Linked DNA regions of Homo sapiens. The protein of the gene in region 1 interacts with the protein of each later gene in a pairwise test. Each region holds a gene or a part of one and is shown in the gene's direction. Other genes may lie near its edges.

Evidence for each region.
Region 2: the proteins of VGLL4 (region 1) and TEAD4 interact in binary tests that used the Homo sapiens proteins (3 or more experiments, as listed by UniProt).
Region 3: the proteins of VGLL4 (region 1) and MEF2A interact in a two-hybrid assay, tested with the Homo sapiens proteins (one study listed by BioGRID).

Annotation. Positions count from the first base shown.
Region 1 is NC_000003.12:11,632,298-11,642,917, reverse strand, and holds part of VGLL4 (transcription cofactor vestigial-like protein 4), read left to right. Parts: intron 1-9,496; exon of another isoform or gene 9,497-9,801; intron 9,802-10,620. UniProt on the Homo sapiens protein: May act as a specific coactivator for the mammalian TEFs.
Region 2 is NC_000012.12:3,017,186-3,027,805, forward strand, and holds part of TEAD4 (transcriptional enhancer factor TEF-3), read left to right. Parts: intron 1-212; coding exon 213-341; intron 342-1,359; coding exon 1,360-1,403; intron 1,404-1,929; coding exon 1,930-1,985; intron 1,986-3,448; coding exon 3,449-3,588; intron 3,589-4,658; coding exon 4,659-4,832; intron 4,833-10,620. UniProt on the Homo sapiens protein: Transcription factor which plays a key role in the Hippo signaling pathway, a pathway involved in organ size control and tumor suppression by restricting proliferation and promoting apoptosis.
Region 3 is NC_000015.10:99,707,464-99,718,083, forward strand, and holds the end of MEF2A (myocyte-specific enhancer factor 2A), read left to right. Parts: intron 1-3,170; coding exon 3,171-3,297; intron 3,298-4,926; coding exon 4,927-5,308; 3' UTR 5,309-9,025; downstream 9,026-10,620. UniProt on the Homo sapiens protein: Transcriptional activator which binds specifically to the MEF2 element, 5'-YTA[AT](4)TAR-3', found in numerous muscle-specific genes. Also involved in the activation of numerous growth factor- and stress-induced genes.

The DNA of each region.
Region 1 (10,620 bases):
AGGGCACCGTGTCAGCGAGCACAGGCGGGCTCTTTGTCTCGCTGGCGCTTCCTGTGCAGCCCGGGGAGCGCTGACACTGGGGGGTGTTCCTCGCGCTCCGCTCCCTGTGGGAGCGATTACACAACACCCCGACCCCCAGCCTGCCCTGAAAAAGAGAGAGCCGCGCCGAACTGTTATTTATTACCTCCTACTGCCCGCGAGGTGCTTCCCCCACTGTCTTGTATTTCCAACTGTCTCTGGTAGCAGTCAGAGAAAAATCTATTTCTTAAGCCCTCGGACATCCTCTACGTGCGATTTGAAAAAGTGGCAATGGCCCTGGGTCTGCCGCCGAGGGCATCTCCGGGGGAGTTCGGCCTGGCAGGAAGAGTGTTTTCTGTTGTAACCACACACACATCCGGGACTCTTCTCTTTCTCATTCAGCAGGAGCAGTTTCCATTTTTTCTCCAATAATACACGGGACATTTCTCTTGAAAAAGAAAACAGTTACAAAAACTTGGGAGGGTGATTCACTTGTATTTTTTTAATCTAAAAACTTCAGGCCTGTTTCCTAATCAGTTGAAAACTCACCCTTTCAAGAGTATTTTTCCCCTTCAAGGAAAAAAAACAACAACAACCCTCATTCACGTTGTTTTTTAAAACTCTATGGATGAGGATCTCATATTTAACGTTTTTTAAAAAGAGTATTTGTTTTTCTTTACTCCTACTAGTTCCTGCTATGAGAATTTTCGTGAATTTCTTTCTTTGCATCTGATGTGTTAAGTAACATCTTGCTTCTGAACTCACTTAAAAAAGGCAGCCGACTTTAGAAAGCCGTAAGCAGCCATTGCTGGGCTTGTTTCCCGTGACATTCACACATTGTAGTCAGGGTTTTGTTTTTCTTGTTTTTTTTTTTTTTAACCATCCCCGCTTCCCCCAACAAGAAAGAAAAACTTCTGAGGCAATTTCTGTTGTATTGTCTTTGCCAACAAGTAATACGATATTTTAAAAACAAAACATAATGGCCTAAGAGAGAAATATAAGATTGTTAGGAAATTGATACCAGATTAGTTTTTCCTGTCTCCGATTGGTGAGGACCAACTTACGGACAGCGAGCCCAGGTCGAGTTGTTGTGTAGCATGCAACACCCAGGAAACTAGAGTGCTCTGCTCTGCTCTTCTCTCTCGGTATTTGGGAGGAAGAAACTTTGATTTTGAAGATTGAGTAGCTATATGGGATAATGGGCTGAAGTCTGTTTGGTTTAAACATCTGCTCCTATTTTCCTTATTATGAGAGTTAACATTATTTTAACACCAGAATAAATACAGAGGAAATGAAGGAAAGCACAGCAAAATTTGAGTGGTGTTTATAGTGAATTGTTGATGTCCTAGTGGTTTTCTCAGTGTAAACACTGCACACATCTGGTCTGAACTCCAGAGGGTGTTTTGAAGATGGGCATAAATCACACACGGGATTTTTTTGTAGGAAAAGTTGGAAAGGTTATGGTTCTTTAAAATCCAACACTTGGACTTGGAGAATATTCGTTTTAAACATATCAGCTCCCCAGCATTCCAGGGAAGTTGTTTGGAAAATGGAATGTACTGTTGGTAGGCAACATTTGATTTCATTTAGGGCACAGTCAAGTTTCATGCCCCTTAAGAATAAGGGACAAATTAATTTTATGACATTTTAGTTTTAAAAATTAAGATGCGGATGGTTAATTATTCTTACCAGCTAAATTATACCATATTCCTTAGTTGTATGAGACATAGCTCTACTCTAAAATAAACCATGTGTCTGGTCTTTTTTTTTTTTTTTTTTTTGGTGATGAAGTCTCGCTCTTGTCCCCCAGGCTGGAGTGCAATGGCGCGATCTTGGCTCACTGCAACCTCTGCCTCCCGGGTTCAAGCCATTCTCCTGCCACAGCCTCCTGAGTAGCTGGGATTACAGGTGCCTGCCACCATGCCCGGCCCATTTTTGTATTTTTAATAGAGATGGGTTTCACCATGTTGGGCAGGCTGGTTTCAAACTCCTGACCTCAGGTGATCCACCCACCTCAGCCTCCCAAAGTGCTGGGATTACAGGCATGAGCCACCGCACTCAGCCTGTACTGTCTTTCTTAAACCTCTCTTGTGACTTAATACGCAAATCGATCTTTTTAGCCGTTTACCTTGTAGCATACAAGGTCTTCCTTCCTGACTGACTCCATATTGCTTAGATGTGGACTCCCTCCTTGGTAACTGCTTCCTGGCTCCTGCCCTCCACCATAGTTGTCTGCAAGAATAACTGAAAAGAATAAAGGGAAAAAGTTAACCACAATTAGCAGGTTTGGGGTGGGAGAAGGAGACGTTAGGGAGAGGGCCGGAAGAATCGAAGTCTGGCTGACTTCTGGAAGCTAACTAATTCCCTTCACTAATGATGAGCGGATTAGTAGAACTGGGCTTGTGCTATGTGTTCAGAACCTCATGGCTTATTACTACCGTACTCAGCAATTAACCACTGCGTCCATCACCCCACTGAATGCTCAGATGATACCCACTTGAAGCCCAGTTTTGCCTCTGTCTCCATGCAAAGGTCATAGGCCAACCCCAGCCCTCATTTTTTCCCTCCTCTGAACACCTGAGAATACCTTACTAGACTGGCGAAAGCCTCGTGAAGGCAGAGCATTCTGTCTTGGTGACCGCTGCATCCCTGAATCCTAGCACAGGGTCTGAGTGGGCTTTCAGGAAGTGGTTTAGAATGAAGGCTGACTCAAAAAAAAATCAGTGCAAGCTCTCAATGGCAGCTGTAGTTGCTCCTGTATAATTTAATACTTGATTATATACTGCCTTGTATTCTCTATCTAATTATTGCAGAGCTATCCAGGGCCTCAGACATCATCTAATACCTTTGCCTTGTTTTCACCAAGGAAAGTGAGGCTCAGAGAGGGAAACTCTGTTTTTCAGAGAGTTGATTTAGTTTATTTAGAAAGTTTGTGGCAGGATTGAATTGAGTTTTGACTCTTCTATGAATCTTCTATGCCGTGCTGCCTCTCCAGAATTATTTCATGTCTTTTTTTTTTCTTTTGAGACGGAGTCTTGCTCTGTCGCCCAGACTAGAGTGCAGTGGCGCCATCTCCACTCACTGCAACCTCTGCCTCCCGGGTTCAAGTGATTTTCCTGCCTCAGCCTCACTAGTAGCTGGGATTACAGTAGGTGCCCTGCACCATGACCAGCTAATTTTTGTATTTTTGGTAGAGGTAGGGTTTCACCATGTTGGCCAGGCTGGTCTCAAACTCCTGATCTCAGGTAATCCGCCCGCCTTGGCCTTCCAAAGTGCTGGGATTACAGGTGTGAGCCACCGCGCCGGGCTTATTTCATGTCTTATCTCCTCATTAGCTCCGTGATGTTAGGGTCATGCCCCGTCCTGGGTGCCCTCACGGCCTAGCACGGGGATAACACCCTGGATTACAGCACACAGTGGAGCCTCTCCCACTTCTCCTTGCTCTGAAGCCAGTTGCTGGTCCAAATTCCGAGGCTGTTGTGATGTTGGGGAAAGGGTAGGTGAGACACCTCTGAGTGACCGGCCTCGCTGGAAGGTGCTCTTCGTGCTGCTCTGGCACTGGGCTTGCTTTCCTTTTGTCTGCCTGTGCAGAGGAGGAGGCCTGCGTGGATGCCAGCTCCAGAGCCAGTCCCCAGGGAGCAGGGACAGGGACAGGTTAGACCACGGGCTTTCCTCAAGATCGCTGTCGCTGCACTGACATCATCCCTGGGGCTGAGACCTGGGTCTGAGCCCTGGCTGGCTGGGGCTTTACACTGCTGGTAGCGATACTTTAATTATGGGTTAAGAGCCATTAGTGTGTAATTTGGTGGAAGAATTCTCTCCTTTTAATTTAATAGCGTGATTTATATTGGGAGAAAGTAGGAATACATTGCATAGTGTGATCCTCTCAAAGCTTAAGAGCGAATTATTCCGACTTCAAGCTTTAGAACGGTTCATTGTTTTAGGCACAGTTATCCCTTGTTTCATCACGGGCAACTTTTAAATTAATTTTCTGGAATGGAAGGGAAGACGCACACTGGAGAGTTGCTGAGTTCAGTGAGACCCTGTGATCTTTTGTTTTCCACCAGTCTAACCACCAGCGGTTGAGTGGAGTCCTGGCTTCATTGTTCTTTGTCTAATGAGCTCAGAACCTTCAGGAAACTTAGGAGGCTTGGGTAGGTGAAAAGGCCACAGCGCAGGGCCATTTCGTACCCTCTCCTGGTCCCCAGCCCTGCATATCAAGTGACGAGCTCTTGATCTGGGATGTATTCCGAGGTAGAACATCTGTAACTGTTTTGCTGTGGAAAGTCATTTTACTTTAGCTTTTTACTTGCAGGAAAGGATAGGGAGTGGGGGCCAGTGGGGGTTAGGGAGGAAGGGGGAGACAGAGAGAGAGAGAAAGAAACTAGGAGGAGCTTGGTTAGTAAAACATGCCCAGGTGAGCCCAGGAGCTCTGCGAGAGAGCTGGCCTGGCTGGTGTCTTTCTCCTAATTACAGTTTGTGAAGGAAGGTGTGATTATACCCTTCCTTCCAGCTCCCACCCTTGTTTCTCAGCCCGCTTCTCGAAAGATTATTGTACTTGGCTGTTTATCTCTTGGAGCCTACACTTGGCTCCTTCTGGAGGCCAGGTTTGTCTTCCTCCCTCCTTCCTCCGTTCCCTATTGTCTGCGTGGCCTTGTATTCCTAGGGTGCCTGGATGTGTTGCTGTGAAGATTTTTTAAAACATGCGGTAAAGATAGAAAGCAATCCTCCTTGGCACGTGAGGAGATTCCAAACTTCTCAATATAGCTTAGTTCTCCCTGACTGTGAGGATGTTGCAGAAAACTGGATTTTTTCAGGAAGAAATTAGATCCAGATTTAGCACTTACGCATGTACACAAATATATAAAAACAGTCGGACCAGGGAATGTTTCTGGCGATCTTTGTCATCTCAAAGTATCTGACGTTTATTCAGTGGCGGTTTCTATTTAGTGGTATTTATTATTGCACATTGAAGCTCATGGCAACTGTTTTTTAAGACTTGCTCTGCATTGTATTCCAAAACAGTTTTCTCTCCGTCTTTTATTTTTTAATGAACTCATGTGTCATTTCCCACCCCCCAACTCCACAACAAAATCCTAACCGTGGTTGCTTATTTTTAAAAGCAGGACCTGAAAATGATTTTGCTTTCTTCATTTGCTCTCCTTTCCTTTCTGAATGTTACATGTTCTGTAAGTTCGAAGGAATTATTTTTGTCACTTTGCTTTGCTGTCTTGCCTTTTCTGCATTGTTGTTTAATTCTGTTGATTGTTTTAATTTCAAGGTATTATGTATAGAATGTTTTAATCCTATCAATGTGAATCATGACTAGTTGAAAGAATGTTTATTTACTCTAAATGAAATAGAGAATCTATTCTTAAAAGTCCTCTTTAATGTGTTGCTATGCATAGGATCGTTCCAAACTCTTAATATTTCACTCTTTTGTTTGCAAAGAAGTCTGTAAACATGACAAACTGAAATATATCTAGTAAGTGATTAGAGAAAACTTAGTACTAGTACCATTTTGTTATCCATTCTGTTATTAAACATTTATGGAATGCCTATACTCTACTAAGAAATGTATTAGGGATCGATCTCTCAACATGTTTTATAATGAAATATACATACAGAAAAGTGTATAAAAATGTGTATTTTATGGTTAGAGAAATGAACAACCCGGTGACTATGGCCAGGTCAAGAAATAGTAAATCGCCCCTTCCAGGTATTATCTTTTGATCAGATCCCTCCCAGCCCCAAGAGTTCACCACAGTTGTAACTTGCTTTTCTTTATACCTTTACTACCATGTGTCTAATTCTAAACAAATTCTAGCTTTTTTTTTTTTTTTACCCTGTATAGGGAGATGCCTGTATGCCTTCTTTTGTATCTTTTTTGTGAGATCTTTTAAAGTAGTGCACACATCCTGAGAGGTTGTTTTCTCCATGTGAAGCCAGCGTCTCTTTGAGTGTGAGAACTCTTGGCTGTGGGATATACAGACATTATATACAGATAATATATGTCCCAGCTTCCCTTCTCATTCATCTGTAGCTCCACTGTTTATTAAACAGAGTTGGTGATACTTTGGGAAGAACTTTTTTTTCAGTTAGTATTTTGTTCACATTCTTCATCACCTGTTGAAGCCCTCCCACCATCCTTGGTGTAATGGAAAACTAGGAGAAAATTCTGCACAGTTTTGGAGAATGCAACATGGGGGACACTTCCGGAGATACATAGCTTACTTAGGGCCTGAACAGCGACTTTCCTGCTGCATTAATAAACAATTTGCTTAAAGGCTGAGATGTGTTACAAGTCAACTTTGTTGCTGTGCCAGGTTTCTTTGGATCTTAATCCAGGGACTTTTGGATACATAGAAAAAGCTTAAATTGCTCCAGTATCCAAACAATACCCTATATTGTATAGAGATGGCTGTTAGAGAGCAGCACGTTTCTAAAACAATACTCTGCATTATGCACCATCTAAAATTGTGAATGAAAAAGAATTACTCATGTATTGCTCTTGATTTTTATTTTATATCTGTTTTGCATGAAAATAGTTTCCTGTTAATTCTTCTTGGCTAATGATTTGATTTTAATAGAGTGAATTCCAGACTCTAATGGTTTGATGCAGATGTACTCTGCCAAGCAATTTAGCAAAGATGTTTACACTACCCATAATCCAGCTGGGAGACTCTACACTTCTTCCCTGATAACAGTTAAGGGAGTGATGAGTGCAAGTTTCTGGACATTTTCCCCTTAGAAAATAAATGCATCTTCCATTATATGGCAGTACTATTAACGCGACAAGAGATTAATTTAAAATTCTATTTTAATGTCAGCAGTTTTTTTCTTTACCCATGTTCTTCCATTCTTAACTACGCAAGTCCTTTTAAACTATTGTTTTTCTGATGAGCCACTGATAAACTATTGGCTGACCCCAGAAAGAACCTTTGTTTTATTTTCCTGCTGAAAAGTTATGACCTCTTCTCTAATGCTTAAAATCACCCACGAGAATGATCTGGTTCGCTGTTTAAGGAATATGTAATAGCAGCTGTGCCAGGCTTTAAGTTCTACCGACTAGAAAGTAAAGGGAATGGAAAATAGCTGTCATTCTCAGTATAAACCTTATGTGCAGTTTTCTAGCACAGCTCTGCTGAATTCAAAATTCGGAGCAGTTAACACCAGTTTCTGGAGACCAGGCTGGGAGGCTTTTTTCTATTAGAGGCTTCATACCAATAAAAGAGGGCTGATACTGGTAGGGAACAAGGTAAAGTTCCAGAACTCACAGTGGACATCAAGCATTGCGCTCTTGGTGTTTGATACAGTGCATACAGTATTTGGTTCTATATTTTGTCCAATAAAGAGAGAGTGAGTGGGAGAGGACCTTCTTGTGGAGCTGGAAGAATCTGCTCTATATCTTAGAGAAAATAAAAGAACCACATGTTGCTTCCCTGCCTGCAAGCTCTTCTGAATTCATCACCATTCATGTTCCTTCCTTCAGGGGAAATGAAGGCAGATTGTTCTGTTGGTGCTCACAGATCTCTTTCTGTTCTGATACCCTCCTCTTCCTCTCCTGCTTCTTTCCCTTCATCATGTGCTCCTATACAAGTCTCTCCCAACTTTAAAACAAAAACAAACCCTTCCCTAAATCTTGTGTTTGTTCCAGCCATTAGACTGTATCGTCCTTGCCATCCACGTTATTGGAAGAAGGCCAGCTCACCTCTACTCCCTTTCTGCCCTTTCCCTCTTAATCTGCTGTCCTCTGATTTCTGCTCCCACAACTCTGTTGAATTTGTTCCAGACACGGTCACTAAATGATATCCTAGTGGCAAGTTCAGTCTTTTTTAGTCTTTACCTTAGTCTCTTTATGCCATGCAATACTGACTTTTTACAAATTCTTAAAATTCTTGCCTCCCTTTGCTCAAATACTGAGTCCTGGCCAGGGGCGGTTGCTCACGCCTGTAATCCCAGCACTTTGGGAGACTGAGGCAGGCAGATTGCTTGAGCTCAGGAGTTTGAGACCTGCCTGGCCAATGTGGTGAAACGCCGCCTCTACTAAAAATATAAAAATTAGCCAGGCATGCTGGTGCGCGATCCCAGATACTCGGGAGGGTGAGGCAGGAGAATCACTTGAACCTGGGAGGCGGCGGTTGCAGTGAGCCAATATCATCCCACCGCACTCTGGCCTGGGCAACAGAGTGAGACTCGGTCTCAAAAGAAAAAAAAAAAACCTGAGTCCTCATTCCTTCAGAAATAAGGTGCTGGTGCACATATGGTGAGCAACACCAGTGAAGAGGGGCTTGATGGAGCTCCTCGGGGTGAGTAGGCGGGCATAAAAGGGTGACGCAGGCTGATGAGCACTAAAAACAAACTTTTGTCACAGTTTGAGAATGGACTGGAAGGGAATAAGAGATGAAATAGTAATAGGAGAGGATGTGAACCTGGTGCACTGGCTTAGGCAAGAGATAGGGGTAAGGCAAATTCTGACGGTGGCCACAGAGGAAAGCAGTGGATAGACGTATGAGATCCTTAGGGGAGGAGCCTGGCAGGGATTGGTGATGGATTGAACAGCGGATGAGGGAGAGGACGTAGGAGACACTAAGGGTGCCTCCCAGGTTTCCAGCTCCTACAAGCGGATGGGTGGTGCTGCCATCTGCAGAGACAGGAAACACAGGAAGAGGACTAGGTTCTGGGGTGAGCTCATAGGCTTAGCTTCGGCTGCGTTGAGTTTAAAGGCTCTGAGATTTCGAAGAAGAGATAAATAATAGAAAGTTGGGTATATGGTTCTAGAGCTCAGGAGAGGCTGCTGCTGGAGATACTTGGATAGAGAATACTTGAAGCTTTGAGTGAGCGTGGTCACCTGGGGCAAAGGGTGGAATAGGTTGAAGAGGTCCTGGGAACTCCTCTCTTACGAGGTCTCCATTAATTTTCCTGTTAATTGCTAAAATAATCTCTAAACTGCTCCCTGCCTCTAATCTCATCTTCTTCTAGGTTTACATCTGTAATATTACCAGAATATCATTCCGGCTTACCTCTTCAGCCTTACTTTCCATGTTCGCTCACACCCTGCAGTCCACATAACGTGAAACTGCTTCCTGTGAGTAAGCCCTTTTGCCTCTATCTGAAATCTCCCTGTTCCTTTCTCGTGGCTCCTATTAGTCCCTCAAGGGCAAGGGCTTCTTCTGGAAAGTGACCCTCCTCTCCTCTGCCTTCTTTTCTTCATCTTTTTTTTGTTTTTTTGAGACGGTGTCTTGCTCTGTCGCCAGGCTGGAGTGCAGTGGTGCGATCTCGGCTCACTGCAACCTCCGCCTTCCAGGTTCAAGCGATTCTTCTGCCTCAGCCTCCTGAGTAGCTGGGACTACAGGTGCGTGCCACCACACCCAGCTAATTTTTTTGTATTTTTAGTAGAGACGGGGTTTCACAGTGTTGGCCAGGATGGTCTTGATCTCTTGACCTCGTGATCTTGCCCGCCTTGGCCTCCCAAAGTGCTGGGATTACAGGTGTGAGCCACCGCTCCTGGCCCTCCTCTGCCTTCTTGGAGGGATTAGGTGTTTGTATTTTCATGGCATGCTGTGCATACTTCTGCCATGGAATTTATCTCGCTGTGTTACCTCCCTCCTCTGTCTGGCTTACTCTAATTTCTGGGAGGGCTAGGATTTTGTCTTGCAGCTACTCGTTCTTCACACCAGGCAAGTGTTGTCTCCTTATGAATGACTCCAGTGTCTTTTGACTAAAGATAAGCATTGAAATTGCCTGACTAGCCCAAGGATACTCAGCGAGTTGGTGATACAAGTGAGTTTCTTAATTCTTAGAATACTGTTCTTAGAGGCAGGAAAGATAGCTGGGAAAAGGAGGAATATTAATAAGAGGGGAAGAGAGAGAAGAAAAACTCTTTAGGACTTAGCTTCTGTAGGAAAACATTTGAAGTTGGCTGCTTGATTACAGATAGCTGCCCTTGTTCGTCTTGCTTTCTAGTTACTTGACTTTGGACAGTCTGCTAAACGAACTGATCACTGATGGGAAAATATTTAATACCCATTATGTGCCAGGAACTGTTTTATGTGCTGGGGATATGGCTGCTAGCAAAACAGACAGCAAGATCCCTGACTTTATGGAGTGTATGTTCTAGCAGGGGAGACAGATGAGCAACAGGGAAATAAAGAAGATAATTACAGGTTATGAAGAGTCTTATGCCAGGTTGATGTCTGTTAGCTGATTTACTGTTCAGAGTGACTATATCCAAACATGAAAAGGAACTGCTTTTATTTTCAAACTTCAGAATATGAATTTGAGAGGATGATTTATTTTCCCCATGGTCTTCTGAAGGATTTTAAAGTACATTAAGGAAACTTGCAGAAAATTTCTTTGGAATCTTAGGAGTGTGGGATTTTTTTCCTTGATCTGTTAACTATGGCCAGAGTCAGACTGCCTCACTCCATTGTATCTGTCACTATACTGGGAACTAGCATTTATTGAAGCATTATTAGCCTTTTTTAAAAAGAAAGATGAAATGGTTCGTCTTGGGTCTTAATAGGAATGAAATATATGTAGAACTTTTAAATTCAGTGAATTTTATTTTATTTTTTTTTTATTTTTGAGACAGAGTGTTGC
Region 2 (10,620 bases), on another chromosome or scaffold:
TGCCCCTTTGACAGATGAGAAAACTGACCAGAGAAACCAGCTGACTTTCTCAGTTGCAAAACAAGTTAATAGCACGGCACAGACTTAACGCCTGGTCCCCCAGCTCTGGCCACTGGCAGCGAGACAGCTTCCCTGACCCGAGGGCCGGACCTGCCTGGCCTCAGCCTGACTAGTGACCCTGCTGAGGTCCTCCCTTGCAATGTCTCCCCCAGGACCAGGCAGCTAAGGACAAGGCCCTGCAGAGCATGGCTGCCATGTCGTCTGCACAGATCATCTCCGCCACGGCCTTCCACAGTAGCATGGCCCTCGCCCGGGGCCCCGGCCGCCCAGCAGTCTCAGGGGTAAGTGGGCTGCCGAGAGCTGGAGGCCAGGCCAGCCCTCTCCTCCTCCCTCCTCCCTGTTCAGAAGAGCCAGAAGCATTGGCCAGCCCAGATTTCTCTCACCTGAGTCCTCTTGGCCAGGGCAGTCAGGGAAGGAGGGAACAAGGACCCAAGGGCCACACACATCCCGGCTTGGCTGGTATTGGGACGGCTTTCTTGGGGTCCTCGGCAATGACTCCACAGACTTCACAAGGGGGAAGGGGGAGCTTCCAGGAGCTGACCACCTGGTAGCTCTGCCATGTTGGCCTAATTTACAGATGAGGAAGCTGAAGCCAAGGGGGCTGAGCGGAAGCCTGAGACCAGCATGTACCTGGGCAGCTCGTGCCACGCAGCCTCATTCCTGCCCTCCTGCCAGGTGGAGAGCTGGTGCCCCAAAAACAAACCCCTGGTCAGATTTTAACTTTCCCAGCCATGACCATGTTGGCCACACTCTCAGAATGATCCAGAAAGGCCCCTTTTCAGAGCTGTCTCCTCACAGGGGCTTTCTTGGCTCCAGGGACTAAATGAGTCTTCAAGGCACCTGCAGCACCGCCCTAGGCACGTGGGGAAGGGGCAGTGCCAGGCCACAGCATTTTTCAAAGTGCGTCCCAGAGAGCACTAGTCCATCTGCATGTTAAACAGATAGGACACAGTGGTTCTGTGAGTAAGTTTGGGACCCTTGGCATTAAGTGGGTTCTTGGCACTGGGACTTTTCTGAGCCTTAGGTCTGCACTGTGACTCTGCAGGAGTTGCCCTGTGCTGTGTGGACCACACCTGGGTGCTTTTCCCATGGAGCCCCTCCTCCACAGGGCCTGAGAGCCCCCTGAAACTCACTCTGGGGGTGCTGCTGTGGCCTGTTAGCATTCACTAGCTAGGCGAGGCCTCGGGCTCCAGCCTCTCCTCCCAGTGGAGGCCCTGCCCGGTCCTACCCCCACCCCCACACCACAGGGCCCCGGGTGCACCTGGGGCCGTGCTGATTCCATGCCTTTTGCCTCCTCAGTTTTGGCAAGGAGCTTTGCCAGGCCAAGCCGGAACGTCCCATGAGTGAGTATGGCCTCTGGTTTCTCTTGCCAGTTGCTCCCTGAACTGAACTTGAACCCATAAACTCATGGCATTAAGCCTGGGCCCCAGGGTGTGCTGGGGCCGCTGCTGGGGTCGGCCTTTCAGGATGGCTCTGAGCTCAGGGATTGGGCTCTTCTACTGTCAGCCATCACTGGGCTCATCTGTGATGTCTACACCCTAGGGTGGTATTTGCCAAAACTCCAGTCTGTCCAGGGTATAGGCAGGGCCAGAGCTGGGGTCCCCCAGGGGAGGAGGCTGGGAAGCAGACCTCTGGCTGGCCTGGGAGGAGGAGAGGGAGGGGTGGATTTCTTCAGCAGACACGCTGTGTCTGTGGACCCGCCACGAAACCCAGGGGAGTCGGCAGGGGCGGGAGTAGGAGGCCAAGGCCCATCGGGACCACTGAAATCCAGACCACCAGGACCTACCACACAGACCACTGGACCCAGTGCAGGGATCCGGGGCGGTGGCCTGCCCGAGGCTGACACCTCCCCTCCTCTCTCTCCCGCAGTGTGAAGCCTTTCTCTCAGCAAACCTATGCTGTCCAGCCTCCGCTGCCTCTGCCAGGTGGGTGGGCGCTGCGTGGCCCCCTTTCTATCGCAGCCATGTGGCTCCTGCCTCTGGGTCCAGGCCCCCGGCAGCCGAACGCCTGCGTGTCCCTGTTAGATGCTGCCCCGTCATGCACACTGACCACACGTCCTAGTCCCTGGCCACACCCCATTCCTTTCCCCCAGCATGCACACCTCAGCCGTGTGCCAAGCCCCTTCATGCCCCTCGGGTTGCCTTGCTCCTGTCCCCTCAAAGCTGTGCTCAGGGCTTGTGGGGCACGTGCAGTTCCAAGGGCAGTGCCCGTGCCCTGGCGGCTGCCCCACTTGGCCGGCCTTGTTACTGCAGTGTGCCTCACACACCTGGTCCTGGGAGGGCCGAGGGGTGTCTAGCTCACCAGCCTGGAGCCCCTCCCGAGAAGAGGGACCCTTGTGGGAGAAGACCTGGTGGAGGCAGCCAGCGGTGCTGACAGGAGCCCCCACCCCGCCCTCTCACTGACAGGCTCTGCTCTGTCCTCGTCTCTTTCTCAGGAGGGGCCCTCACCACCTCCCACTCTGTAGGACAAGACCAGCTCCTCACTCTTAAACTGCCCTTTCTGGTGTGGAGTCTGCCTGCCCGGCCCCTTGGCTTTCCCTGCCACCAAGAGCAGCCCTGCTGCCTTCTGTCCCCCAGGTCCTGAAGGCTGCTTTCTCTCGTTCACACATCAAAACAAAGTCACAGCGTCAGGTCCCGTCCACCCTCTGTCTCATGCCAGTCTTCTGTCCACACTGACCATGTCTTCACTCCAGGCCTGCTGGCTTTTGCCTGCGTTCCTGCAGCAGCCTCTCCACCGGCTCGCTGTCCCGTCTCACCTCCTCTCGTCACCCTGTCACTCACCAGAGCTTCAGTCTCACGGTGTTGCTTCCAGGTTTATGGTGCCTTCCTGGCCCCCTGGTGCCTTCAGGACACGATCTAAACTACAGTAGGACTGGAGTAGGTTCATCTGTTAGCAACGCTGGATTGAGGGGCTCTTCTGGGCCAGGCCCTGTTCTGGGAGCGGGGGAGACACATGTGATGCAAACAGGAAACGTCCCCGTCTCTCCGGGATGATGCCATATTGTAATAGTGGATTCATCTGGTTATTTCCCCGACTGGAACAGAAGTTGCTTGAGGGCAGGAACTTAACAGTGCCTGTTCTGGAAGCCTCTCGGTCCTGCAGGGCCCCAGCTGCCCTCCAGAATCCAGTCTTGCTCGGCGGTTCCATGCAGAGTGCTGAGTGGCCCGAGTTGTACCAGGCGAGCCCCTCCCCACCAGGGCAGCTCCAGGATGCCCTGGCCCAAGCCTGGCACTCCCTCCACCACCTCTGCTAGGAGGTCCATTTAGGGAGACAGGCGGTCCCCCCAGGCAGCACGGGTCTGTCCGAGGAGGCCTGGGGTCCTTGCAGAGGGTGCGGGCAGGGCGGGTGTCCGTGACCAGGTTCCATGTGCCTTTCTCACTTTGTGCAGGGTTTGAGTCTCCTGCAGGGCCCGCCCCATCGCCCTCTGCGCCCCCGGCACCCCCATGGCAGGGCCGCAGCGTGGCCAGCTCCAAGCTCTGGATGTTGGAGTTCTCTGCCTTCCTGGAGCAGCAGCAGGACCCGGACACGGTAGGTCCTGGCCTCTGCCTGTCCAGCTCCCTGGTCACCCCCTCTCCCTCTGTTTCTGCTTCCGGCAGTCTTGCCCCACTCCATGCTGGGGCTTAATTCAAGTTCCCTGTTCCTTTCCGATCTTCCCTTCTGCCCTTCCCCCCACTCCTCCTTTCCTCCTTCACGTCACCCCTCTTCCCTCTTTCCCTCCTCCCTGGCTTCCTTTCCGTGTCCCAGCGCCCAGTCAGCGTCACGCTCCTCCCTCCCTGTCCTGTGTTCCTCCTCCCCTCCTAACCCAACCGACCCTTAGTCCAAGGTTGCTCTGGTCCCAGCCCCACCCCTACACTGTCCCAGCCTCTCTCTGGTTCTGAGAAGCGGGCAGGAAGCTGAGGAGTCTCCTGTGTCTGCTCCATATCCTATGGGATACCAGCCTGTCCCCTTCGGTGTCCAGTGTCCTGGGTGACCAGCGTCACCTGCAAAGGTCAGAGGGGGACCTGGAGGAGGCCAAGGTGACAGGATGCCAGGGCCCTTCTCACTCTGACATCTTCAAACTTCTTTTTTTTTTTTTTTTTCTTGAGACAGAGCCTCACTCTGTCACCCAGGCTGGGAGTGCAGTGGCATGATCTCAGCTTACTGCAACTTCCACTTCCTGAGTTCAAGCGACTCTCCCGCCTTAGCCTCCGGAGTAGCTGGGATTACAGGTGCCTGCCACCACACCTGGCTAATTTTTGTATTTTTAGTAGAGACTGGGTTTCACCATGTTGTCCAGGCTGGTCTTGAACTCCTGACCTCAAGTGATCCACCCACTTCGGCCTCCCAAAGTGCTGGGATTACCGGTGTGAGCCGCCGCACCCGGCTCAGACTTCTTTTTAGCTGAGGAACCCATGAACCAAATAGACCTTTACTTAGAAGTCCAGGATGTAAAACAAAAGGAGTAGACTTTTACCATCTCTATTTTACTCATGGGGAAACTATGGCCCAGAAAGGCCAAGCGGCTTGCACCAGGTCACGTGGTGGGCACGCAGAGCCAGGGTTGTCTGTCTGACCGTCTGGCCTGTGCTCCGTCTCCCTCAGACCCACTCTCTCCACAGTACAACAAGCACCTGTTCGTGCACATTGGCCAGTCCAGCCCAAGCTACAGCGACCCCTACCTCGAAGCCGTGGACATCCGCCAAATCTATGACAAATTCCCGGAGAAAAAGGGTGGACTCAAGGATCTCTTCGAACGGGGACCCTCCAATGCCTTTTTTCTTGTGAAGTTCTGGGTAAGCCTGTGATAACCCCTTCTTTCCTGCCACCAGCGTGTCCGTGGTAGTGAGAACGGGGCGAGAGTGCCCAGAGTGTGCCCTTGTCACAGTAGAAACTTGGGGAGGTGGCACCAGTGAGAAGGGGAGAGTAAGCCCAGCATGGCTATGGGATGGTTGGAGCTGAGCCGAGGAGCGGGGCGGTGATCCCAGAGAGCTGGCCTAGTCGAACGAGGCCTTGTCTCACGGGTGGGGATGGCAGCTAAGCCGGGCTAACAGTGGAGCCCTCAGGAGGTGAGGAGGTGTAGTTCCAGAAAAAGACAAACGGGACCCTGCGGGGATAAGTGAAGACATGACTAGGAGCGCCCTTGTCACCCAGGTCTTTGAATGACAAGTCCTGCATGGGTTTCCGGGCCTGGAGCTGGTCCTTCGGTGCTCGCGTCCAAGGCATGTTGGGCTGAACAGAGCTTGGAGAAGGGGAGGGAAGTGTTGGATGGGTCACCCAGCTGACTCTGCCCCAGGGCGAGGCCACCCCACAAGAAACACCCACCCAGCTTCTCAGATAGCTCAGCCTGTAGACTTGGCCTCTGCTGCCCTCCCACCTCACCCCGGGCAGGTATTTTGTGGGTGGAACCTCCTCCATTGAAACGTCTTGTCTGAGGCCGGGAGGTACAGTAGCTGCTCTGGGAGCTTAGCTTCCTGGGGGCCCAGTGTGTGCAGAAAAGGGGTGCGAGGAGAGAGTCAGACAAGTAAGTGCTAATGAAGCCAGCGGTGAGGAAGGGCAGGAAATCAGGCTCTGTGACTGAGGCCTCCAGTATTCTCAGGACACGGACTGAGGCTTGGGTGGCTCTGCCCGCATCCCTCTTCCCCACTCCCCTTCAGCTCTCCTCACGCTCTTTTCAATGCCTCTTGTGCAGAGATTCTTACCCTTTATTTACTGCCAGACCACTTTCATAATCTCAAAGCTTTACTTTTCCTAGAAAGAGGCATATTCACACCGAAGTTTATATAGACGTTCAGATGGCTTGCCGGCTCCCGGTGAGCAGCTCCCAGCCTGGCTCTCATCCACAGCTGAACATGGGGGCAGGCTGTCTCCAGAAGGGGCAAGTGTTGGAACTGAGACCTAGGGCCCCTGACCTTTAAGACACTTAGCATTTGCGCTCTGCCAGCGGAATGGAAGTTGGACCCTGGCCTGAGGGATGGGCACATCTATTGGCAGAGATGGGAAAGGCTGTTGCGGCCTGGGAGTGCATGAGTAGTAAAGGCAGAAGGAAGTGGGCTCTGGAGTGAAGTTGAAGCCGTAGGTAAAGAGGGAATAAGAGGAGACAACTGGGAGAGTGAGTTAGGTTCTGGAAGGTCTTGATCATACTAAAGTTTGAGTTTTAACCTGTTCTGGAATGAAAAATAAGTAGTATTTTATTTTACTTGGTCTTCTTTTTAAATCAATGCATGTTCATGGTTAAAATGTTAATTAATACCAGGAGCCTTATTTAACGAAAGAGAATGAAGGGCCAGTTGCGGTGGCTCATGCCTGTAATCCCAGCACTTTGGGAGGCTGAGGCGGGCAGATCACAAGGCCAGGAGTTCAAGAACAGCTTGACTAACATGGTGAAACCCTATCTCTACTTAAAAAAAAAAAAAAAAATTAGACAGGCGTGGTGGCACACGCCTGTAATCCCAGCTACTCAAGAGGCTGAGGCAGGAGTAATCGCTTGAACGTGGGAGGCGGAGGTTGCAGTGAGCAGAGATGGCGGCCACTGCATTCCAGCCTGGGCAACAGAGCGAGACTGTCTCAAAAAAAAAAAAAAAAGTGAAAAGCATCATATTCTTGTCCTACTCCTCCCCACACCCAAATCCCAATCCCCAAAGGTAGTCACTGCAAATTTCAGCTGTTTATTTTGGGCTTTATCTCTTTAGTTCTAAGTAATATGCTTATATTGCTGTATCTCGATGTCAGGATTAAGACATTATATTTTCATTTCATTATGGTAGAAAAAATTAGCTGTGTTACATCACTTTTCCCCCTCATCATCCCAATGTAATAATATCCAATAAGTTATTTAATTTAGTAAAAGTCATAAAATGTTCACTTTTTTTTTTTGAGTCTCGCTCTGCCACCCAGGCTAGAGGTGCAGTGGCGTGATCTTGGCTCACTGCAAGCTCCGCCTCCCGGGTTCACGCCATTCTCCTGCCTCAGCCTCCCGAGTAGCTGGGACTACAGGCACCCGCCACCACGCCTGGCTAATTTTTTGTATTTTTTTAGTAGAGACGGGGTTTCACCGTGTTAGCCAGGATGGTCTCGATCTCCTGACCTCGTGATCTGCCCGCCTCAGCCTCCCAAAGTAATGTTCACATTTTTTGACAATGTAGATTGAACACCAAAGAGCCAAGAACGGGCTGGGTGTGGTGGTTCATCCCTGTGATCCCAGCACTTTGGGAGCCCAACGTGGGCAGATTACTTGAGTTCAAGACCAGCCTGGGCAACATGATGAAACCCCATCTATACAAAAAGTAGCTGGGTGTGGTGGTGTGTGCCTGTGGTCTCAGCTACTCAGGAGGCTGAAGTAGGAGGATTGCTTGAGCCTGGGAGGCAGAGGTTGCAGTGAGCCAAAATCGCACCATTGCATTCCAGCCGGGTGACAGAGCAAGACCCTGCCTCAAAACAAAAAAACAAAAAACAAAACAAAAGTACAAAGAGTCAAGAAGGGTATTATGATTACATTTTTACCTCTTGTACAACTTTTTTTTCCTGCAAATAAATGGCTCTTGCATATTTTTTAATAAGCCTATTCTTAAAATTTTACAAATTGCTCCATCAGAACCACCATATAAAATTAAAATTTTTTTCCCCCAAATATTCAAAACTGTTAGATAATTTATCAATTTCTCCTTTCTTCTGGAGATCTTTCTCCTGGCTGCCTCTGTTCTGCTCCAGTTTGAACGTGTTATTCTTTTTTTTTTTTTTTGAGACAGAGTCTTACTCTGTCGCCCAGGCTAGAGTGTAGTGGCGCGATCTCGGCTCACTACAACCTGTACCTCCCTGGTTCAAGCAATTCCCCTGCCTCAGCCTCCCGAGTAGCTGGGATTACAGGCACCCACCATCATGGCTGGCTAATTTTTGTCTTTTTGTAGAGACAAGGTTTCACCGTGTTGGCCAGCCTGGTCTTGAACTCCTGACCTCAGGCGATCTGCCCACCTCAGCCTCCCAGTGCTGGGATTACAGGTGTGAGCCACTGCGCCCGGCCTGAGCATGTTATTCTCTAGGCTTGCCCTACAGTTGTCATCCTGAGCCTCCCCTATATTGATACAATTTCCTAGCTCTTGCATTTCTCTCTTTATTGGTATAACCCCTTCATTTTGTGGGAACACATCCTCTAGTACCTTCTAAGAAAAGATGCATGGTACATAAATGACCTTGCTTCTTTGAAATGTCATTATTTTTATTATATCCTTATACTTGACTGATTGGTATTGGTAGTCTGGATAAAGAATCTAGATCATACATCATTTTCCCTAGAAAATGATGACTTTTTTTTTTTTGAGACAGGGTCTTGTTTCGAGATGGAGTTTCGCTCTGTTGCCTAGGCTGGAGTGCAGTGGCGCAATCTTGGCTTATTGCAACCTCCACCTCCCAGGTTCAAGCAATTCTCATGCCTCACCCTTGCAGGTAGCTGGGATTACAGTCGTGTGCCACCAGGCCTGGCTAATTTTTGTATTTTTAAGAGAGATGGGATTTTTCAGTGTTGGCCAGGCTGGTCTTGAACTCCTGGTCTCAAGTGATCCTCCTGCCTCGGCCTTCCAAATTGCTGGGATTACAGGTATGAGCTATCGTGCCTGGCCTAGAAATGATTTTCGAGGATCATTCTTTAGTGCATTTGTCATTATCTTCTGACATAAATAGTCTGATAGCATTCTAATTCCCTATCCTTTATTATGTAACTTTTTTTTTTCCTCTGGAAGTTGTAATGTTTCTTCTTTCTCCCTAATGGCCAGTTTCACATTGGTGAGCTTTGGGATATGTGTTGTTTTACTTCCCCGTCTTGAGCCAGGTACTTGGTAGGCACTTTTAACTGTGAGATGAGTCTTTCAGTTTTAGGAAATGTACTCGTATTATTTCTTTGATAATTTATTTCCCTCTGTTTTCTGTTTTCTTTTCCAGGAATCTCTGTTATGATGTTGGAACCCTCTATGATGTTTACCATTTCTTTATTTTCTTGGACTTATCCTCTACGATTTTTACCATTTATTTTCAATCTTGGTCTGTTTTCTTAGCGATTTCCTTAATTTTGTATTCTGACTCTTTTCTGAATTAGTTAAGGTTGTGTCCAAGTGCATATCACACAAACCCCAAAGAAACAGTGGCATAAATAGTTTTTCTTTCACATCAAGGAAGTCTGGAGGTAAAGACTGTCCAGTGCTGGCCCAGTGCTCCTGACATCATGAGGGACCTGGCTTCTCTCTATCTGCTGTCCTCAGTGTATGACTTCTGTACTCAGGGTCATGACTGCTGGAGTTCCAGCCACTGTAGCCATCTTCCAACCATCAAAAGAAGCCAGTTTAGCTCCCTGTAAGGGGCCTGCTGGGAAGCCCCATAATTAGTTGTGTGGCTGCATCTTGCCGTAAGGAACCCGGGAAAGGTACTTTTTTAGTTGGGTAAGTTGCTGTTCTGAATAAAATCAGAGCTGTAATACTGTAGAAGAAGCTGCATACATCCTTTTATGGATGTATCTTAGTTCAGTTGATGACATTTTGTTTTTTCTGGGTAGTTTATAAAGTGTGCATCCTACAGTTAAGGGTGAATTAGATGAGTGGAATACAGCAGCATCTCTGCCACACCTTCTGTTGAATATTTAATTTCGGCTCTGACATTTTAATTTTCCAGAGCTCCTTCTTGTTCTGTGATTGCATCAAGATGTTTGATGGATGTAGTTTTTCTCCTCTTTTTCTTAAAGGTATGAAGTAAGTGTTACTTCTTAAGTTTTCTCCTGCTCCTAACCCTCCCCCAACCCACGCCCAGACTAAGTTTTGCTGTGTTGCCCAGGTTGGAGTGCAGTGGTGTGATCTCGGCTCACTGCAACCTCCGCCTCCCTATTCAAGCAATTCTCCTGCCTCAGCCTCCCAAGTAGCTGGGATTACAGGTGCCCGCTACCACGCTTGGCTAATTTTTGTATTTTTAGTAGAGAGAGGGGTTTCGCTATGTTGGCCAGGCTGGTCTCGAACTCCTGACCTCAAGTGATAGATTTACAGGCGTGAGCCACCACACCCAGCCTCCTGCTCCTTTCTTTGTCTTTGTTTCTTTTTAATTCCGTTTTTCTGTTTGTTTTGGTCCTTGTCTTTCCAGCTGGAGGGTTTTCTTTGGTGTCTTTAGTTCTTAGCTGCCTGTCTGTATTTTTTTAACAGCTTTCTTGCAATGTAATTAACTTACCTTACAGTTCACCTACTTAAAACATACAGGCCACGCACAGTGGCTCACATCTTAATCCCAGCAGTTTGGGAGGCCGAAGCAGACAGATTGCTTGAGCTCAGGAGTTTGAGACCAGCCTGGGCACATGACAAAAACCTGTCTCCACAAAAATAATACAAAAATTAGTCAGGCGTGATGGCATGTGCCAGTAACCCCTACACTTTGGGAGGACGAGGCGGGTGGATTGCTTGAGTCCATGAGTTGGGGACCAGCTTGGCCAACATGGCAAAACCCCATCTCTCCTAAAAATACCAAAATTAGCCAGGCATGGTGGTGCGTGCCTGTAATCCAAGCTACTCAGGTGGCTGAGATGGGAAGATCGCTTGAGCCTGGGAGGCAGAGGTT
Region 3 (10,620 bases), on another chromosome or scaffold:
ATTTAGGCATTTCATCTTAAAATGCCCTAATTTGGGGTTGTATTAGGAAAGTTTAAGAATATTACAGTGATCGTAGGAGTGCTTTTAGCCAAGCAGACTGTATGGAGAATCGAGGGCAGCTGGTTTCATTTAAATTTACCAATCTAAGAAGGAGTGGAAAACACATGTGGTTTCGCTTTCTCATCAGCTGAGCCAAACACCTGATGCTTCAGAGGAAGACGGCAGTAGTTCAATTCTCCCTTGCCCATTACTCAGAGACTGCAATGCAGAGAAGTTATTATGATTCTCCTGAGTGTCATAAGTAGACTGTGGTAAAGATGGTCTGATTTTAGCCTTCAGGGTAAATGCTTTGGCACAGAACTTTGAAACTGCTGTCCGCAGCTACGTGAGGGGACAGAGCGTTGATAACATTTGATTGCCACTTGAATTCTAAGAAGTTCTTTTAAAACAGAATCAACAATAAAAGGTTTTATTGAAAAAAAAAAAGTCTCTTAGGAAATATCCATTACTTTTCCAACCGTTAGTATGAAAAATAATGCCCAAATTTGTCAACTGCATACTATCTTAGGGATTGTGAATCATAGCCTGTTATTAGTGCCTTGCACAGAACAAGGTTCCAGAGTAAAGCCAGGGATGAAGCATTCATAGAAATTCTGTTTCGACGCATTGATCACCTGCTCTGTGAGAGACTGTACTAGGGACATAGCTTTCTCCAAGTTTATTCCAAGTGAGGAGGCAGGACATACCTAAGTGGGTAACCGTGGAGGGGAAGTCCTGAATTGTTGTGATTGTGAATTTATACTCTGAGAATTGAGAAGGGAGGGCAAAGCTATACTGTTCAAAGGTGTATTGGCTGAGAAGAGGGAGCTTGAACTGGGTGTCAGATTATGGTTTACTGACCGTTTCATTACAGGTTTTTCAGTATACTTAGAAATTCCACTATACTTATTTTTAGAAATGCCATTGAATTGGGAATTTATTTTTTAAAAGTATAAAAGAAATTACCAAAGCATATAAAAATGGAGGCAGGCTCTCAAAATCATCAGTCGCTTAGCGTCAGTCTCATGCCACCTTTTGACCGACTTTATCTTTCTTCTCTTTCTCGTAACACTTACTCTGTTTGAAGTTTACCATGTTGTTTTTAACTTATTTCCACATCTATTCAGCAAATATTTATCAGGCAGCTGCTGTGTGGCAGGCACTGTGCCAGGCACTGGAAATGCAGGAGTGCAGTCAGCAGTGAAGCCTGGGGGGAAGGCACAAGACACACAGCTCTAGGGATAAGCTGCTGCAGTTGTGTCAAGGGCTGTGTCTCAGCTCGGACAGGAAGGAACATGCGTGACTCAGCCAGGCAGAGGAGGCAGAGTGCTCTTGGGAGAGGGTGTGCCTGTACAAAGGCTAGGAGTTTGCGGGCGGGACGGGGCTGAAGGAATGGGGACAGAGCGTGGGTGGTTAGAATTGAGACTAGAGAGGTAAGTAATGATTTGTAGACTATGTCAAGGATTTTGGAAACTGTCCGGAGAGCATTGGGGAGCCATAAAAAACTTTTGAAGTAGAGGAGTGCCATGACCATATTTGTTATTTTAAAAAGATGTCTTTGCTGTATATAGGGTTAAAAGGCAATGCCAGGAAGCCACATCAGAGGCTACTGTAGTGGTCCAAGCAATGGGTGCTGATAGCATAGACTAGAGAGGTGGCAGTAGAGATGGTGAGACCTGGGCAGGCTTGAGAGAGAGCAGATAGAATTGCTCAGACCTGGAAATTGATGTTGGGAGTGAGAGGGAAGGGAAGTAGCAAGGATAACACCCATGGGCTTCTGCACGAGCTGCTGGGTGCATGTTGGTGCCATGTACTAAGAGTACTTAAGGAGGAACAGGTTTGCAGGAAAGGATGGGCCATGTCAGATGTGTGGCGTTTGGAGTGGCGTCCAAATGGACATGGCACTAGGTCGTTTAAAAGATCTAGAGGTCGAAGGAGACTGTGGGCCGGAGGGAGCACTGGGGAAGGCGTCAGTGTGACGGGTCCTTGCCCCAGCCCATGGGAGTGTATAGAATGACAAGGGCAGAGTCAGGACAGCCCTGAGCACCAGCTGTGTCGCTTCAACTCCGTTCCTTTTTTAAAATGTTAATTCACTAGGAAGACCAATTTCTTTAAACACCTCTCTTGAGACATGAGAAAGAAGATAAAAGTAGAAGAGTTTTGCCACCTCTCTTTGGAACCAAGTGAGAAAGACAAGTGTTAATGATGAGCTGAAATAACTCCCCGTGTGAGTGATAACTAACGTCCTAAATCTTGGTCCCAGTGATTACGACTGAAGCATTCATATGATATGAGCTGGGTATACTCTAGGACACCGAGTTTTTTCATGAAGTTGAAACTCTTGCATGCTGTCAGGGAGTTTGCGACAGTCTAGGTACTTTAAACAAATGCGCTTACTAATTGTGTAATGATGTCACTGAGCTTGGCACCCCATGTAGGGATTCTGTCTTTCCTGTCCCCTATTCCCTGTCCCCCAACCCCTTGCTTCATTAAGACTTGCTGATTCAAACTCACTCTGGTTGAGGTTGAGTGTTTCTCTTTGTTCCAAAGGGTAGTGGCAGGCATATTTAAAGTAACAATTGTACAGAACACTCTTTAATGATGGCCTCTTATTTGAATCATCCCAGACAAAGAAATATTGCTAGATCCTGTAAATCTTCCAAGAAAAGATTTTGCGGATTTTAGACCCACATGTATGTTGTTTTGTTGTGAAGTATCTGGCTTCTCTCAATGTAGGAACTTTTTATTTTATTTTTTTTTGAGAGGAAGTCTGTTGCCCAGGCTGGATGGAGTGCAGTGGTGCTACCTCGGCTCACTGCAGCCTCTGCCTCCCGGGTTCAAGCAGTTCTCCTGCCTCAGCCTCCCAAGTAGCTGGGACTACAGGCATGCGCCACCACGCCTGGATAATTTTTGTATTTTTAGCAGATACGGGGTTTCACCATGTTGTCCAGGCTGGTCTCAAACTCCTGACCTCAAGTGATCCGCCCATCTTGGCCTCCCAAAGTGCTGGGATTACTGGCATGAGCCAGCATGGCTGGCCTCAATGTAGGAACTTTTGCAGTAGCTACGTAAAAAATAGATTCCGTATGGACCTTCCATCATATGCAGAGCCCTCTTGTCTTCCTTTGTAGATTATTCACTGACCAGCGCTGACCTGTCAGCCCTTCAAGGCTTCAACTCGCCAGGAATGCTGTCGCTGGGACAGGTGTCGGCCTGGCAGCAGCACCACCTAGGACAAGCAGCCCTCAGCTCTCTTGTGTGAGTAACTAGAAGTTTTCCCTGCATCTTTACTCCTGGCCTACACACTCTCTTTTCCTATCAGTGACAGCCTTTTGCTCTGTTGAGTTTCGTGTGAGGAATCCTGTAATGATTCCTTTTCAGGTAGATACAAGTGTCGGGAGAAAATATTTTCTTACATGGCTCTAGACAGTAGCTTGGATACTGACAAACTAGGCATTCCTTGAAGGGATTTGGGGAGCAAGGCTTCTCCCATAGGGACATCCTGAGGTAGAGAGACTCAACCAGGATCTGAAGGGGTCTGAAGGCACAGATACCACCCGCATGCACCATCCTTCTGCCCTCTGACCAGTGATGAAGCTGCCTACTGCACCCCTGCTCCCAAGCACCTGCCTCTGGCTGCACTGCTTGAAAGGCAGCCTGTAGGCATTCAGGCCTCCCTGCCACCCTTGCCATTGACTGCTTTGGTGAGTATCTGTAGACAAGAATAGGAAGACAAGCTGGAGCTTTTGCTTTCTCCCTGGGCCACAGGGAAGGAAAACTGGGGACAGGGTGTCTTATATATCAGTCAGGCTCCATAGGATTTGTGTGACTGATCCCAGCCCAATGCACACACCAAACCTCATTCACAAAGAGAATGTTCCGTATGGGCAGGGTGTAAGGATATAAGCAAAGAGGATTTACAGTGGCGCCCAGATGAGGCCAGACATCCCTGACAGCCGGGAGAAAGAACAGGGCTTTTGTGGAACCAGGATGACAGCAGACCCATGGAGCAGTTGGAGGAGAGTGTCCCAAGAGAGGGGACAACATAGCAGACCCAGCTGGCCTCCATGAAGACTGGCTGCCTTGCCTGTGCTCTGGGCAGTAGGAATACCCCAGGCCCCTAGCCTCTGCCCAGGAAGTCCCCAGAGAGCCTGAGCTCAGCAGTCCCTTTCCCTCATCCATTCTGAAGTAACTGCACAGTGAGGATTGTTGTCAGTGGTCTTCTTAGGAATTATGTCATGGAAAAAGCAGCAGAGTATCTCAGGGAAATTTGCCTACACAGGATTTGGCCCTCAGGCCTGTCCTGAGCATCCTAAATGAATGCACTAAAAATAGTCCTGGAAAAGCAAGTGGAAAGGGCTCAGAGCCCAGGCCCGGGGAACAGCCTGTTTGCGTCCTCCTCTACTGCTCTCAGCCAGCCCCTCATTTCCTCATCTGGAAAATGGGGATGGTGCGACTTGCACCTTAGAGGTGTTGCGAGGATGAGCGATGTTGTGCCCTGTCACAGGGCCAGAGCAGATGGGGAGCAGATGCTGAGGAAGAAGAGGCGGTGAGCAGATGAGGCTGCTGTTCCTCTGTCTTTCTGGTCCCTGCACAGCATTAAGACACTGACATTGTTTTGTATACTTTAGCTGCAAAAGTACCAACGTTGTGGGTAACAGAACCAAGTAACGTAAGGGCTCAACGGTACTGTTTTCTTTCCTCCTAGGAAGATGGGATTTCCTTTTGTGCCAAGCACTGAAGGAAACGACCCAAACCAGTCTTGGGGAACTCTGATAAGATTTCAGACTCTGGGCCCTTTTCCATCAGGCAGTGTCTCTACTGTATCATCCCAGTTTTGCAGAGGTACTTGCAAGCCATCTGACCTCTCTCTTTTTTTTCCTTCAGTGCTGGAGGGCAGTTATCTCAGGGTTCCAATTTATCCATTAATACCAACCAAAACATCAGCATCAAGTCCGAACCGATTTCACCTCCTCGGGATCGTATGACCCCATCGGGCTTCCAGCAGCAGCAGCAGCAGCAGCAGCAGCAGCAGCCGCCGCCACCACCGCAGCCCCAGCCACAACCCCCGCAGCCCCAGCCCCGACAGGAAATGGGGCGCTCCCCTGTGGACAGTCTGAGCAGCTCTAGTAGCTCCTATGATGGCAGTGATCGGGAGGATCCACGGGGCGACTTCCATTCTCCAATTGTGCTTGGCCGACCCCCAAACACTGAGGACAGAGAAAGCCCTTCTGTAAAGCGAATGAGGATGGACGCGTGGGTGACCTAAGGCTTCCAAGCTGATGTTTGTACTTTTGTGTTACTGCAGTGACCTGCCCTACATATCTAAATCGGTAAATAAGGACATGAGTTAAATATATTTATATGTACATACATATATATATCCCTTTACATATATATGTATGTGGGTGTGAGTGTGTATGTGTGGGTGTGTGTTACATACACAGAATCAGGCACTTACCTGCAAACTCCTTGTAGGTCTGCAGATGTGTGTCCCATGGCAGACAAAGCACCCTGTAGGCACAGACAAGTCTGGCACTTCCTTGGACTACTTGTTTCGTAAAGATAACCAGTTTTTGCAGAGAAACGTGTACCCATATATAATTCTCCCACACTAGCTTGCAGAAACCTAGAGGGCCCCCTACTTGTTTTATTTAACTGTGCAGTGACTGTAGTTACTTAAGAGAAAATGCTTTGTAGAACAGAGCAGTAGAAAAGCAGGAACCAAGAAAGCAATACTGTACATAAAATGTCATTTATATTTTCCAACCTGGCATGGGTGTCTGTTGCAAAGGGGTGCATGGGAAAGGGCTGTTGATATTAAAAACAAACAAAACAAAAAAGCCCCACACATAACTGTTTTGCACGTGCAAAAATGTATTGGGTCAAGAAGTGATCTTTAGCTAATAAAGAAAGAGAATAGAAAACACGCATGAGATATTCAGAAAATACTAGCCTAGAAATATAGAGCATTAACAAAGTAAAATTAATATATTAAGTTATAATTGGAATATGTCAGAAGTTTCTTTTTACATTCATATCTTAAAAATTAAAGAAACTGATTTTAGCTCATGTATATTTTATATGAAAGAAAACACCCTTATGAATTGATGACTATATATAAAATTATATTCACTACTTTTGAACACATTCTGCTATGAATTATTTATATAAGCCAAAGCTATATGTTGTAACTTTTTTTTAGAGAATAGCTTTATCTTGGTTTAACTCTTTAGTTTTATTTTAAGAGGGGAAAACAAAAATATCTTGCAAGCAGAACCTTGGAAAAAAAAAGCCATGAACACTTATTCTAAATGTAAATTAAAAGTTGAGCCAAACTCTTTGTGTATATAGCATCTTAAATATATTATCACCTTTGATGTAAGTACCTATGTATTGTATGGTCACCAGATTAAAAAGTATATTTTTGTGGATTGCCGCCAATCTGGGGGGAAAAGGCGAGGTCCTTTATTAAGTATTCACTGTTTAATATTTACTATTTTGTTAAATATACTGTACTTTGGATTTTAATTATTAGCCCAGTTTTTTCAGAGGATTGTATAAAGGGGTTTCTCCCCTCACTGGTGGTGAATGTGTGATGTTACATTGTAATCTTTGTGCTGTATGGGTTGAGCATCATTATATATTTTGTATGTGTACATAAATAGCAAAGTGGCAAAAAAAATTGGTGTTAAGTTCATCCTGCATAAGTATAAAATGTGTTGTAACAGATTTTGTAAGGCATTATTTAAAACTTGCCTTTTGTGAGGAAAAAATGTAGTAGAAAAAGCTGACCTAATTTAATTAATATTAGAGAAAATGGCAAAATAGTAGATGAGCACAAAGGTTTTATAAGTGGTAAATGATTAGGGGAAAATAATCATGGGGAAAGGGATCTTTTTTCCTTGACCCTCTGAAAACAGAACGATGCAGCTGGTTACAAAATCCTACCGTTATCAGCTCTTCTGCACATTGCAGTGATGCTTTGGTATGCGGGGAGAAACACTCTTAGGGTGCTGGTCCTTGGCATGACTCTTGCCATTCTAATTGGAATTAGTGCCACCCTCAGCTTGGATTTTGAACAAGGCCTTATTCTTTCAGGAAGACAACTAATGGATGATAGCAAGTTCATCCACTTACTGGGCTTGTGCCATGAGCAAAATTCAAAGTCCTGTATATCTTTCATTGTAGATTTTTAAATACTCCTTTTCCTAAAAAACTCAAGGGTTTAAAAATTGCTATTTTATATTTTAAATGATATTGAGCAGCTACCTACAATTTCTATGTACATTTTGTTCCCCCCCCCCCACCCCCCCCCCAAATTACGTTCCTTTTGACATTTTCCTCATCTGCTGTTTGTGACAAGTCATCAGCCAGATTTCCTGACTGACACATAGGTATGATCAGTGCAGGAGAGACCTGCGCACCACAGGCTGCAAACTGGAGGTTCTGTTCTCATGGCAGTTTGGGCAGTAACTTTTGAGAGAGGCCAAAAAAAGGAGGATGACATGCTGTCTCCTCTCTTCAGTATAGACATTAGGCTCTTATTCAGAAAGGATTTTTCTTTAAAAATGTACTTACTTTACTGAACTACTTACAGGCACATTTCTTCATAAGGCCACACCTAATCCAAACAAGACAGTCTCCCAACACTGAAGTTCCAAAATAATCCTTACCACTTTGTAAACCATTTATAGCTTTGAAAGTGTTAAGTGATTCCTTCGTTATTATTTATGCATGTTCATGAACTTCTGCTGTACATTGGAATAGGAGTTAACACATTCACATTTACTGTCTATTTTCTTGTGTGCCTTATGAGATGGCTTTTCTGACTGTATCTCAATAGTCTTTCTTTCTATGCAGGTTTATAATCAGTACAACTACTGTTTTCTAAAATACTACTACTCAAGGCTCGGAGTTTGTATTTAAATTACACTGACCAAGTAACAATGTATTCCATTTCAGGAACTGAATATTTGACTGTTAACCTTTTTCCCATACGTCCAGTGTGGCATGGAGCATATGGACTTGACAGACATCTCTCACCCAGACGCCCACGTGTGAACACACCCACATCCACATCTCTGGGTGGAAACCAGCCTAGAGAGGGGACGACGCTAATGGTGTTGCTTTAGAACCGTCTTTTCTTACCCTTTTAGACTCGTGTTTTGTATGAGACACCATTGCAAGAAAATTTTATCCCTCCAGAAGTATTTTATTACTAAAGAACAAAAGCAAAAAAAGCTTAAATTGCACTGGTTAAAGTACAGTTTCCAACAGCTGTCCTTCCTCAGTACTCTAATGGCCACTCCACCGCGAGTGGAAGTCACTGTTGTGTGTACACAGGTGGTCCCAATCAAAACTCCATCTTTTGAGCCCAATTATGTCCATTTTGTTATAGACTAAATCAGGGGTTTGTTCTACAAGAACAATACATGTTTTACCCTTTCCTTTAACTAGAAGGATAACTAGTAATGCATCAACATAATTTCTGTATTAACCATCATGCGCACAAGAAATACATAGTAAATAAGGAAGCTGAAAACTCCTGGCATTGGATCTTAAGCTAGATGATTAGAATGTGAAAAAGATTTTACAAATGTAAAACTTCTATTTCTCTGTAGAAACTTTCTTCACTTTGCTGTGCAAGAAGACACTGCTTTGCTATATTTAAAATGGCTTTTTTAAAAGAGATTTATGTATTTGGTAAATGTTTGTAGTCAACAGTTCACACAAGAAGCTGTACACGGTTTGATCATGTAAAACCGTTTGGCGGCACAAGCTGGACTTTGTTGCCATCCTTGAGATGAACCTTTTAAGAAAAATAAGTTAATCTCAATTTTTCCCTGAATGTGTTGTTTTTCTTCATTATACAATAAATATAATAGTGAACTTTTTATCAAATGGTGAAGACAATGCTAAAGGTTGTTGTAAACTGTTTGTCTCCCGCACTCACTCCAGTAAAGACGGACTGGCTCTTCCTGTGCGTCGAGACTCTGTCATGTTTGCCTGGGGACACAAGGCGCTGGCTTTGCCACCAGGCAGCCCCTTCCCCTAAAGCCCTCTCCTTTTTCATTCCTTTCACGAAGACCTTTTTCACCTGCAGGCTTCTTTCTCTGGGTTGAGACAGGGTCAAGGAAACCGTCCCAACGCCCCCACTGGCCTCCCCCTTGTCGGCTCCCGGGTCATCCCTGCTGGGCAGCCCTGGAGCCCATAGGAAGCAGTGGGCCACGCAGTCCCACCGGGGCCTAATCTGGCTGTTGCATGCACAGTGCTGTGGATGAGTGGAATCCATTCGGCCTCCAGTAACTGCTTCTCACAGGAAATACGCCAAAGCCTGTTAGAGGGGGTGGGTATGTTAGCTATCATTAGATTCTGGGTCTCTTTAAAGTCTAGGGTGTGAAATGATTAGTTTTGCCCAAAATACATACATGATGCTGAGCTAGATGCAGCAGAAGACAGATGTGCTGGCATGAATTGAGTTTTCAGAGTGTTAGGTGTACGTCCCAGTATGCTGGCAGGCACTTAATGGTCATCTCCCTTTGTCATAATTCAGCTAGAAAATGAAAAATCTTCAACTTTCAGTAGAAGATGTTCTCTCCTGATGTGCCTTCTAAGCCAGCTCCTAGCTAAGCAGATTCCTGGTGTTAAACTGAAAACTAAATTTTTGCGCTGGCTACGGTGGGGCTCTTATTAGCAGGTTTTGAAAGCTGGTTGAGTCCTGTGGCTAAAAATACTCTAATCACAGCTGCAGCTACTTAAAGTCAATTCATTACATTTTCCTGCTTGGCTCCCCTGGGTGCCTTGCTCTAGGCAGTATCCTGTTTTCAGGCCGATTCTGTGGCACCAGCCAAGATGATTTTCAGTCGGAGCCCTGTGCCAGCTGATTGGCTGCAGCCTGCTCGGTCGGTCGTCCGGTGCTCACAAGCAGCCCGAGGACCACTCGGTTGTAAAACTGAGAGGAAGAGGAGTGTTTCTTCCCATCTTCCACGGGGCCAGGAGGTTTCAGACGTTCCAGGTCAAGTGGGCTTGTGTCCTCATCCCGCAGAAAGTTGCTGAGCCCCGTCTGTGAGAGGTAAGCCCTGATCCCAGCTGTTGCAGGCTTTGGGCTGAGGACGAGCTCTTCCCAGGCAGCCCCAGCCCCAAATGCACATAGCTGGGGTGTAAAGCTTTGGTGCTCCTCATTTCATCAGTCTTGCTTCCCAGAGGACCCAGATTGACAGGGCATCTTACTCGGCTTAGACGCCAGGGCCTACACTCCAGTCACTTTCTTACAGATGCATGATGGGCCTGCTTTCTAGCTAACCAAAGCAAACGCAGCTGTGGAAGAAAGAAAGCAGTTGTACTGACTGGTTTCACTACACAGTCCCCCCTTTTTTTACTCTTAGTGTATACACTTCATTTTGAACTCACTTTTGACTTACAGAAAAGTTGGGAAAATAATGTGGTTTCCACATATCCCTCAGCGGGCTTTCCCTAATGCTAACATTTACATAACCATAGTACAAGTACGAGAACCCAGAAATTAATATTGACACAGCATTTTTAACTAAATACCTTACTTGAATCTCCCCATTTTTT